2 linked regions of the Homo sapiens genome follow. The protein of the gene in region 2 interacts with the protein of the main gene of each other region in a pairwise test. Each region holds a gene or a part of one and is shown on either strand. Other genes may lie near its edges.

Evidence for each region.
Region 1: the proteins of IGFL1 (region 2) and IGFLR1 interact in binary tests that used the Homo sapiens proteins (3 or more experiments, as listed by UniProt).

The regions. Positions count from the first base shown.
Region 1 is NC_000019.10:35,739,581-35,743,878, forward strand, and holds the start of IGFLR1 (IGF-like family receptor 1 isoform a precursor), read right to left. Parts: upstream 2,873-4,298; 5' UTR 2,816-2,872; exon of another isoform or gene 2,810-2,815; intron 1,649-2,809; exon of another isoform or gene 1,644-1,648; 5' UTR 1,601-1,643; coding exon 1,444-1,600; intron 985-1,443; coding exon 800-984; intron 509-799; coding exon 130-508; intron 47-129; coding exon 1-46. Other genes in the region: U2AF1L4 (splicing factor U2AF 26 kDa subunit), read right to left, coding at 3,018-3,223, 4,229-4,298. UniProt on the Homo sapiens protein: Probable cell membrane receptor for the IGF-like family proteins. Binds IGFL1 and IGFL3 with a higher affinity. May also bind IGFL2.
Region 2 is NC_000019.10:46,228,311-46,231,784, reverse strand, and holds IGFL1 (insulin growth factor-like family member 1 precursor), read right to left. Parts: upstream 2,044-3,474; 5' UTR 2,011-2,043; coding exon 1,986-2,010; intron 1,678-1,985; coding exon 1,624-1,677; intron 1,512-1,623; coding exon 1,268-1,511; intron 965-1,267; coding exon 955-964; 3' UTR 542-954; downstream 1-541. UniProt on the Homo sapiens protein: Probable ligand of the IGFLR1 cell membrane receptor.

The sequences.
Region 1 (4,298 bases), about 10 Mb from region 2:
TCATCCAGGAGGCGAGACAGGGGTTGTGACGCCAGACTGGACAGTTCTGGAAGAAAGGGGAAGGGTAAAGGTGCGGAAGAGCGGGCGTCCAGTCCACCTTCCCTGCCCCGGGGCTCCTCCAGGACTAACCCCTGCTCAGGAGTGGAAGTAGTGAGGCCTCCTTCCATGTGTCCCCTGTCTCCAGGGCGCCTGGGGAGGACAGATGCGAGGAGGAAGGGGTGTGGGTGTTGGGGACTCCGCAGACCAAGCCAGGATAGGGATAGGGGTCGGCTTTCTCCTTGGGCCAGCAGAGATGCCAGAGCAGAATAAACAGGAGGATCGCTATCACCGCCAAGGTCAGGAGCAGGACCAGCACCACGAGCGGAAGGAAATTCGGCCAGGCCTGCTGAGGGACAGGCTCAGGGGTCCTCCAGGCAATGGAACTTGCTGGTGAGCTGCGCTCCTGGGAGCTAGGGGCGCCTGGGTTTCCAGGTGTGAGGGGGCAGTGCCCCTTGGCAGGGACCGGCCTCTGGGGATAAGGGGTTGGAGTAAAGCTGGAGGCCACACTCCACTCCTGCCCGCTCCCAAACCTCCCAACTTTATATCCTTTAATGGGGCCACATCCCATCTGATACGGTATCTGATAAGGTAGTTGGGCCCCGCAAGGCCCAACTACCTTAACCTAGGACCTCCCGACCCCTGCAGGCCAGCCACCTCCTGAAACCACGGCCCCACCCCTTACGTGGGGCTACGCCGGCTCCCTACATCTAGGCCCCCCACCTCCAGCACGCCCTTGCCCTGCCGGGAGTCCCATCTGCACCTCTCTGCAGCGCCACGGGGTTCTGCCCCCGCCCGCGGCGGGAGTAGGGGTCACGGCTCCGCCGCCGCAGGGGCTACATAGCTCCGCGCCGTCGGGGTTGCACTGCCCAGAAGAACACTTTCGGAACGGGGGCGTTACGAAATCGCCGTGGTCATTGAGTCCGCAGTTTTCCCGGAACTCATAGTCTAGCGGGAAAGCTGCGCTCCAGTGCGGCCGCCTAGCCCGCCCCTGCGCGGGCAACGCCCTCTCCCTTCGCCCTATCCCAGCGTGCCCCGCCCCTCCAGGACGCTTCCAGCCTATTAGCGTGCGCCCCGGTCTTGTCACTTTTCTCCGGGCTCGCCTTTTCACCCCCCTCCAGCCTGCTCCGCACGAAGCTCCGCCCACTCCCGGCTTCTCTACATAAAGCCCACCCTTTCCACGCGGCCCCTATCCCGCCTCTCCAGCCATATCCATTCGCTGTTGCCCTACGGTAGCCCGCACTATCTGCACAGGCTCTGCCTGCCATCCCTGTCTGATCTGCATAAGGCCCACCGCTTAGACCCCTAAGCAAGCCTCTCTGGCCCGTAGCCCACAGACCTCGCCCCTTCCCCGCTCCCTATCACCTGCAAGCTCCGCCCAAGCAAGGCTCGGTCTCGGATTCTCACCCGGGCAGGGGGGCGGCCCGAAGCGTTGCAGGCAGCTGCTGCAGCACTTGTTGTCTGGGTTCCAGTATTCAAGGCGGCCGCAGTACTGGGAGGCTTCCGGCGGTGGCGCCAGGGCCAGAAGCAACAAGGCCGTCAGGAGGCATCGTCCAGGCCCCATCTGGGGGGCCGTGATAGCGGGACTTCCAAACACAGCGCCTCTGCTACACTTTCCGGGGAAATCGGGCAGAAGAAAGGACGCGGTGATGTGGGGGAACAGAATTCTCACGCCTCTTCGGAAGCCGGGAATCTACCCCCGAGCCCTCATCCCCCAACTGAGCCGGTTATCAGAGAAGCCCACAAGGCCACTAGGGGACTAACAGGGCTGCGGATCTAGATTGCAAGAATGCATATCCCACCTCTGCCGTGTCCTCACCCACCCACCCTCCCTTTTCCATCCCTAAAATAAGACAATGATAGCACCTGTCTCATAGGGTTATTGTGGAGAATTAGAACCGTCATTAGAAGTAAAGCAGGGGCTGGGTGTGGTGGCTCATGCCTGTAATCCCAACACTTTGGGAGGCCAAGACAGGAGGATCACTTGAGCCCAGGAGTTCGAGAGATCAGCCTGGACAACAAAATGAAACCCCATCTTTACAAAAAAAAAAAAAAAAAAAAAAAACAGCAAAGCACTTTGCCAAGTGCAGTGGCTCACGTCTGTAGTCCCTGCTACTAGGGAGGCCAAGGTAGGAGGATTGCTTGAGCCATGAATTACAGACCAGCCTGGGCAACACAGCAAGACCTCATCTCTAAAAACAAAAAAAACTGGCCGCCGGGCGCAGTGGCTCATGCCTGTAATCCCAACACTTTGGGAGGCCCAGGTGGGTGGATCACCTGAGGTCAGTAGTTCAAAACCAGCCTGGCCTACATGGTGAAACCCTGTCTCTATTAAAAATACAAAATTAGCCGGGCGTGGTAGCGCATGCCTGTAAATCCCAGCTACTTGGGAGGCTGAGGCAGAATTGCTTGAACCTGGGAAGTGGAGGCTGCAGTGAGCTGAGATCGTGCCATTGCACTCCAGCCTGGGCAACAGGAATGAAACTCCTTAAAAAAAACAAAAACAAACTAAAGTGCTGAAAACAGCACCTCACATACAGTAAACTCAGTGTTTAAGTGTAAGGCATTACTAACTCCCATCACAATTCGGCAGGCACGGAGGAGTCAGCCCCATACTGGCTGGAGACCACCTCCCAGCACCTCACCTCACCTTTGAATCCTAATCTCCTTGGGGCTAGGGCTCCTCCCACCTGCCACAACCAGGTCTCTCCCCCTTGAATAAGCCTCAGATGGAGGTGCTAAGGTTTTCAGCACAAAGGTGTCCCCACCCTACCAGTACCGTTAGGGTCCTGGGTCCCAAGCTGGCCGTGCCAAGTTCCTCAGCTGAAGTTGTGGCCAGGACCCAGTCTTGTTTCCCCTTTTCGTCACATGTGTGGGTGGAGGGAAATGCCAAACCACAGCAAAAGCAAGTTGATGCCGAAGTGAAACACGCAGCTTTATTAAGACAGGGGCGGTAGAAGAAGGTCTCCATGCTGAACAGATTACATTATGGAGCCCGGGAGCCTGGGAAGGATGGGGCAGGAGAGTGAAGGGGGCTTTGAGGAGAGGTCCTGCCAGGAACATCTGTCCCTGTTGGGGGTGAAGGGTAAGGGGGCCAGGGCCTCAGAAGCGGCCATGCCAGTGATCAGGGGAACACCGATGGTTCCTCTCTCGGGGATGGTGGCCAGTATGGAACCTCGGGGGTGACCTGGGAATAGGAGCGTTGAGAGTTCTGTTAGAACCCTGAGGAGTGGTGCAGAGATCCTGCAGGCCTGCCTCTCTGCTCTGGGATGAGGCAGGAGGGTGCTGAAATAACTAGAGTTCTAAGACACGACCTCAGTGGCCAGTATCAGGGGAACTCAGTGGCCAGTATCAGGGGTGGCAATCCAGGCTGGTCGTGGATTAGGGGTTCAGGCTGGTTTGGGGATTGGGACTTAGGTACTGGTCTCCAGATGGAGCTCAGAACTACTCTTAGGGTATAAGAGTCTTGGGAATGACCGGGCGCAGTGGTTCACGCCTGTAATCCCCACACTTTGGGAGGCCGAGATGGGTGGATTACCTGAGGTCCGGAGTTCGAGACCAGGCTGGCCAACGTGGTGAAACCCCATCTCTACTAAAAATACAAAAATTAGCCAGGCATGGTGGCAGGTGCCTATAATCCCAGCTACTTGGGAGGCTGAGAAAGGAGAATTGCTTGAACCTGGGAGGCAGAGGTTGCACTGAGCCAAGACTGCGCCTTTGCACTCCAGCCTGCGGAAGAAGAGCAAAACTCCGTCTCAAAAAAAAAAAAAAAAAAAAAAAAAAAAAACAGTCAGCCGGGAGTGGTGGCTCACGCCTGTAATCCCAGCACTTTGGGAGGGTGAGGCAGGTGGATCACGAGGTTAGGAGTTCAGACCAGCCTGGCCAAGATGGTGAAACCCCATCTCTACTAAAAACACAAAAATTAGCCGGGCATGGTGGCAGGTGCCTGTAATCCCAGCTATTTGGGAGGCTGAGGCAGAGAATTGCTTGAACCCGGGAGGCGGAAGTTGCCATGAACCAAGATGGTGCCAATGCACTCCAGCCTGGGCAACAGAGTGAGGCTCCATCTCAAAAAAAAAAAAAAAAAAAAAAGATTCTTGGGAACGTGGTTACTGGGGCTTAGGGTTAGGCTCATCTGAGGATATAGGGGCCTTAGGACATGAGGAGACATAGCAGGCTGGTCCTGAGGTACCTGCGCCTGGGTCCCCGCCCATAGAGCTGCCTCTGGAGGTTCTGGGAAATGGGCCGCAGATGCATGAAGT
Region 2 (3,474 bases):
ACATAGGCGTGGAGCTTAGAATGCATATAAGCACTAGAAAAAGAAGTTTGTAGCTTTGAGTTGGTCTGGTAAGCTACTCTGACCTTCTCCCCATAGCCAGTTGGAGAAAGAACCTCCGTTCTTTCCCAGTCTGTCTGCATCTCCTTAACGTACATCAAGAACAAACAGCCGGGTCCTGTTCTGTCCCAGAACTGGTGGGAGAGGGAGTGCCTCTCCGAAGCCCTCTCGCGATCCCCACCTCCTCCCCACCCCACCTGGGCTGCTCCCGATGTTGTGACTGGGTTCAGGGAGCCATGGGGTGGTGGAGGCTGGTGTAGGAGGGTGGCCCCTGTCCCAGGTGCGGCCAGGGTCCTAGTCACCGAGCACAAATAACAAAATAATAAATTTAAAAATAAATGGAAAAAGAGAAAATAAGTGTGTGCACGAACAGAACAAATGGAAAGGCCCAGATGCCTCAGGGTGACAGAGAGAAGGGGCCCCACGTCACCCTCTGTGACCCCTTTCAACAGTCCAAGCTCTCTAATTCATGAATTCTACAGCATTCATTTATAAAGTACATAAATTTATTATGATCCTGTGCTTTGCTCCTGGATAGAAGAGAACTTGAGATGATGGAAAATCTCACAGAAGGGTGAAGGGTTCCCCAGCCAGCCTTGGGGTGGTGCCGGGTTGATGTTGGCCATAGGGGTCATCAGGAGGGTTCAGAGTCCCTGGGCCCCCATCAGCACACGCATCTCATGCTGTCCAGAATTCTAGAAGGGGACCTGTGGGCCTCCTCAGGGCAGCTGCAGGGTGGGCCTCAGACAGGTCACAGAATGAAGTGGGCAGTTGAGTGTGTGTTTCTCTGGCCCCCAAACAGCCACTCAGCATCCCAGATCTCAGGTAACACCAGCCTCTTTCTCCAGGCCCACCCAGGAAGGAGAATCCAGGAGTCATCGTTCCCCTGATGTTCCATTAGCTGACACTGGAGATAGTGACAGAGAGAGACACTGAGCGGGACAGAGATGGCCAGAGATGGGGGCGAGACTGAACATGGGCAGAAATGAGGACAGGAGAGCCAGGAGGAGAGGACAGCGGGGTAGAGAGAGTGAGATTCTGAGAGGGAAATAAAAATGGATGGAGACACAGGTGTAGGGAAAGGGAGAGGTGGATTGAATAGAAGCAGGGGGCAGAGACAGGGAGACAAGGAGAATGGGGGCTCCACCCAGGGCAGAACAGGCATGCAGCTACCCTGCACCCACAATCCCACGGAGGGGACAGGACTCACCTGCGACAAAGCCTGTCATCCGAGGTCCGGGCTGAGTCGCAGTTCTGGTTTATCAGCTTCACCATGAAGGTCCAGGGGCAGCACTGCTCAAAGCAGACTCTGAAGGTGCAGTTTCCACACGTCTGGGTCCTGGCCAAGGGCACGACGGCATCATCATAGCAACAGTGCTGCAGGGGGTCGTAGAACTTGTCCCCACATCTCTTGTGTGGCTGGCACAGCATCAGGTAAGGAGTCATGGGGGCCACTGGAGGAGACAGAGCTGGTGAGATCCAGGAGGTAGTGGCAGGTGGGTCCCAGCCTGGGGTCCCCTGGAAGGTGTACCCCTCCTCCAGCTTCCCAAACACTCCTGGGCTCACCTGGGGCTCCGTGTGAGCAGAGGAGCCTGGAGATGCAGAAAATGGCAAAGACAGCTGTGGGAAAGGGAAAGGGAAGATGGGGTGAGTGGACAGCCACAGATATGACTGGCACTGACATTTAGAAGAAGACTGGGTGGAACCAGGGCTCGGTATGGCTTTGAGCAGCTCAGGGACTGAAACAGGGCTGTGGATGGGGCTGATCTGGGCACTATGGATGGGGAATTGCTGTGAGCAATTCACGCCTGGAGATTTGGCTGGGCATGGGAACAGGGATGAGGTGTAGTTTGGGGTAGGGAGAGAGCCCTGGTGGTGGCTGAGATTGGAGATGGGCTCAGGTGGGAATGGGGTCCTGTCCTCCTTACCTACGATGCAGCCTCGGGGAGCCATGGCTCTGGGTGGTTGCAGTGGAGTGAGGAGGGGATCAGCAGATCTCAGCCACTCCTTTTATCCCATATTTCTAGTGGAGCTGGTGATGTCATGGCATTTCCTGCCCTCCTGCAAGTCCTGCAGAGACAGGCTGGGTCCTTGGGCAGGAGAGGTGCCAGGCAGGGTACGTGTCATTGTAGCTTTGATCTCACCTTTGTAATCAGGAGAGAAGCGGTACACCCTCCACCTTCTCTGTGCTATGTGCCCCAATCGTCCCCCACACTGAGTCCTCTGGAAAATAGGAAGGTTCAGGATGCTCCTGGCATTAACACTCTCCGACACTCACATGTCCACACAGCGATTCCACAGGATCCTACTGAGCTATGACTTTCCTCAGTTTCCTTGGGACATTGCTAACCCATGACATCATTTCAAAGGGTCCCATTAGGTCCCAACCTCACAACCGAAACACATGGTCAAGAATCCAGTAACTTCTCAGTCACCTGCAGCTCATGGCATTCAGGTGGGAGAGACTGTGTGACTCAGGCACCTGACTTTCACAGGTTTGGAAGGTGGGAGTGGAGCTGGCGGGACCCCTGGGACTCAACACTCCTCTGGGGGCTCTTCATCTCCTTCTCTGTCTCATTAATGGTCATTTACCCAGGACAGGTCCACTTGGGAGCCTACATGTCCCAGGCTTCGTGTCAGACACCAGTGATGCAGTGCTGAGTAGAAAACGCAAAGTCAGTGTCTTCGTGACGTTCATGACAGTGAGAGGAGAGAGAGAGAGAGAGAAGGTAGGAGAATAAAACTCCTGATTTTGGTTATTGTCGTTCTTGTGTTTGGTGTCATTATCACTGTGAAGTTCTGGTGGAGAAATTCCACATCCCCCCCTGAGATTCTCAAAGGTGTTTTTCCTTAATGTGCTTTTTCAGAGGGTTGGGTTGTGATTTTCCCTGAGAAGAGCCATCTTGGGGTCAGGATGTGAGGACAGAGGGGAAGGAGCTGTTTTGGGTCAGTTCTGTGCCCCCCTACCCCTGCCCAGCTTCTGCAGGAATTCCTCCGCTCAAGCTCACAGGCCACACATGGCATGGACAAGCCGTTCTCCTCCGGGCCAGGCAAGGTGACCTGTCACCCTCTAGGCACCATGGCTGGCTCCTAGCAGGGCATGGATGTGGTTAGATTTGTGTGTGTGGAAGATCCTGCATCTGTGTTCCTGGGGAGCACGGATAGGGGCTTCTCTCTGGAGGCAGGAGACACAGGAAGAGGCTGCAGAGAAATGACTTCAATAAATACCAGAGTGCTCAGCACCCACCTTCTCCCTCGACAGAGCAGACCCTGCTTCCAGCACCATCTCCCTGTCTGCTCCCTTGGCCTCTGTTCCTTGCTGCTGTGGGGTACAGCAGTGTTTTCTAGGACACAGATTAGGATGTGCTAGTAGCATGGAAAATCAATTTACTTGGGCATAAACAATGTTATTTTTAA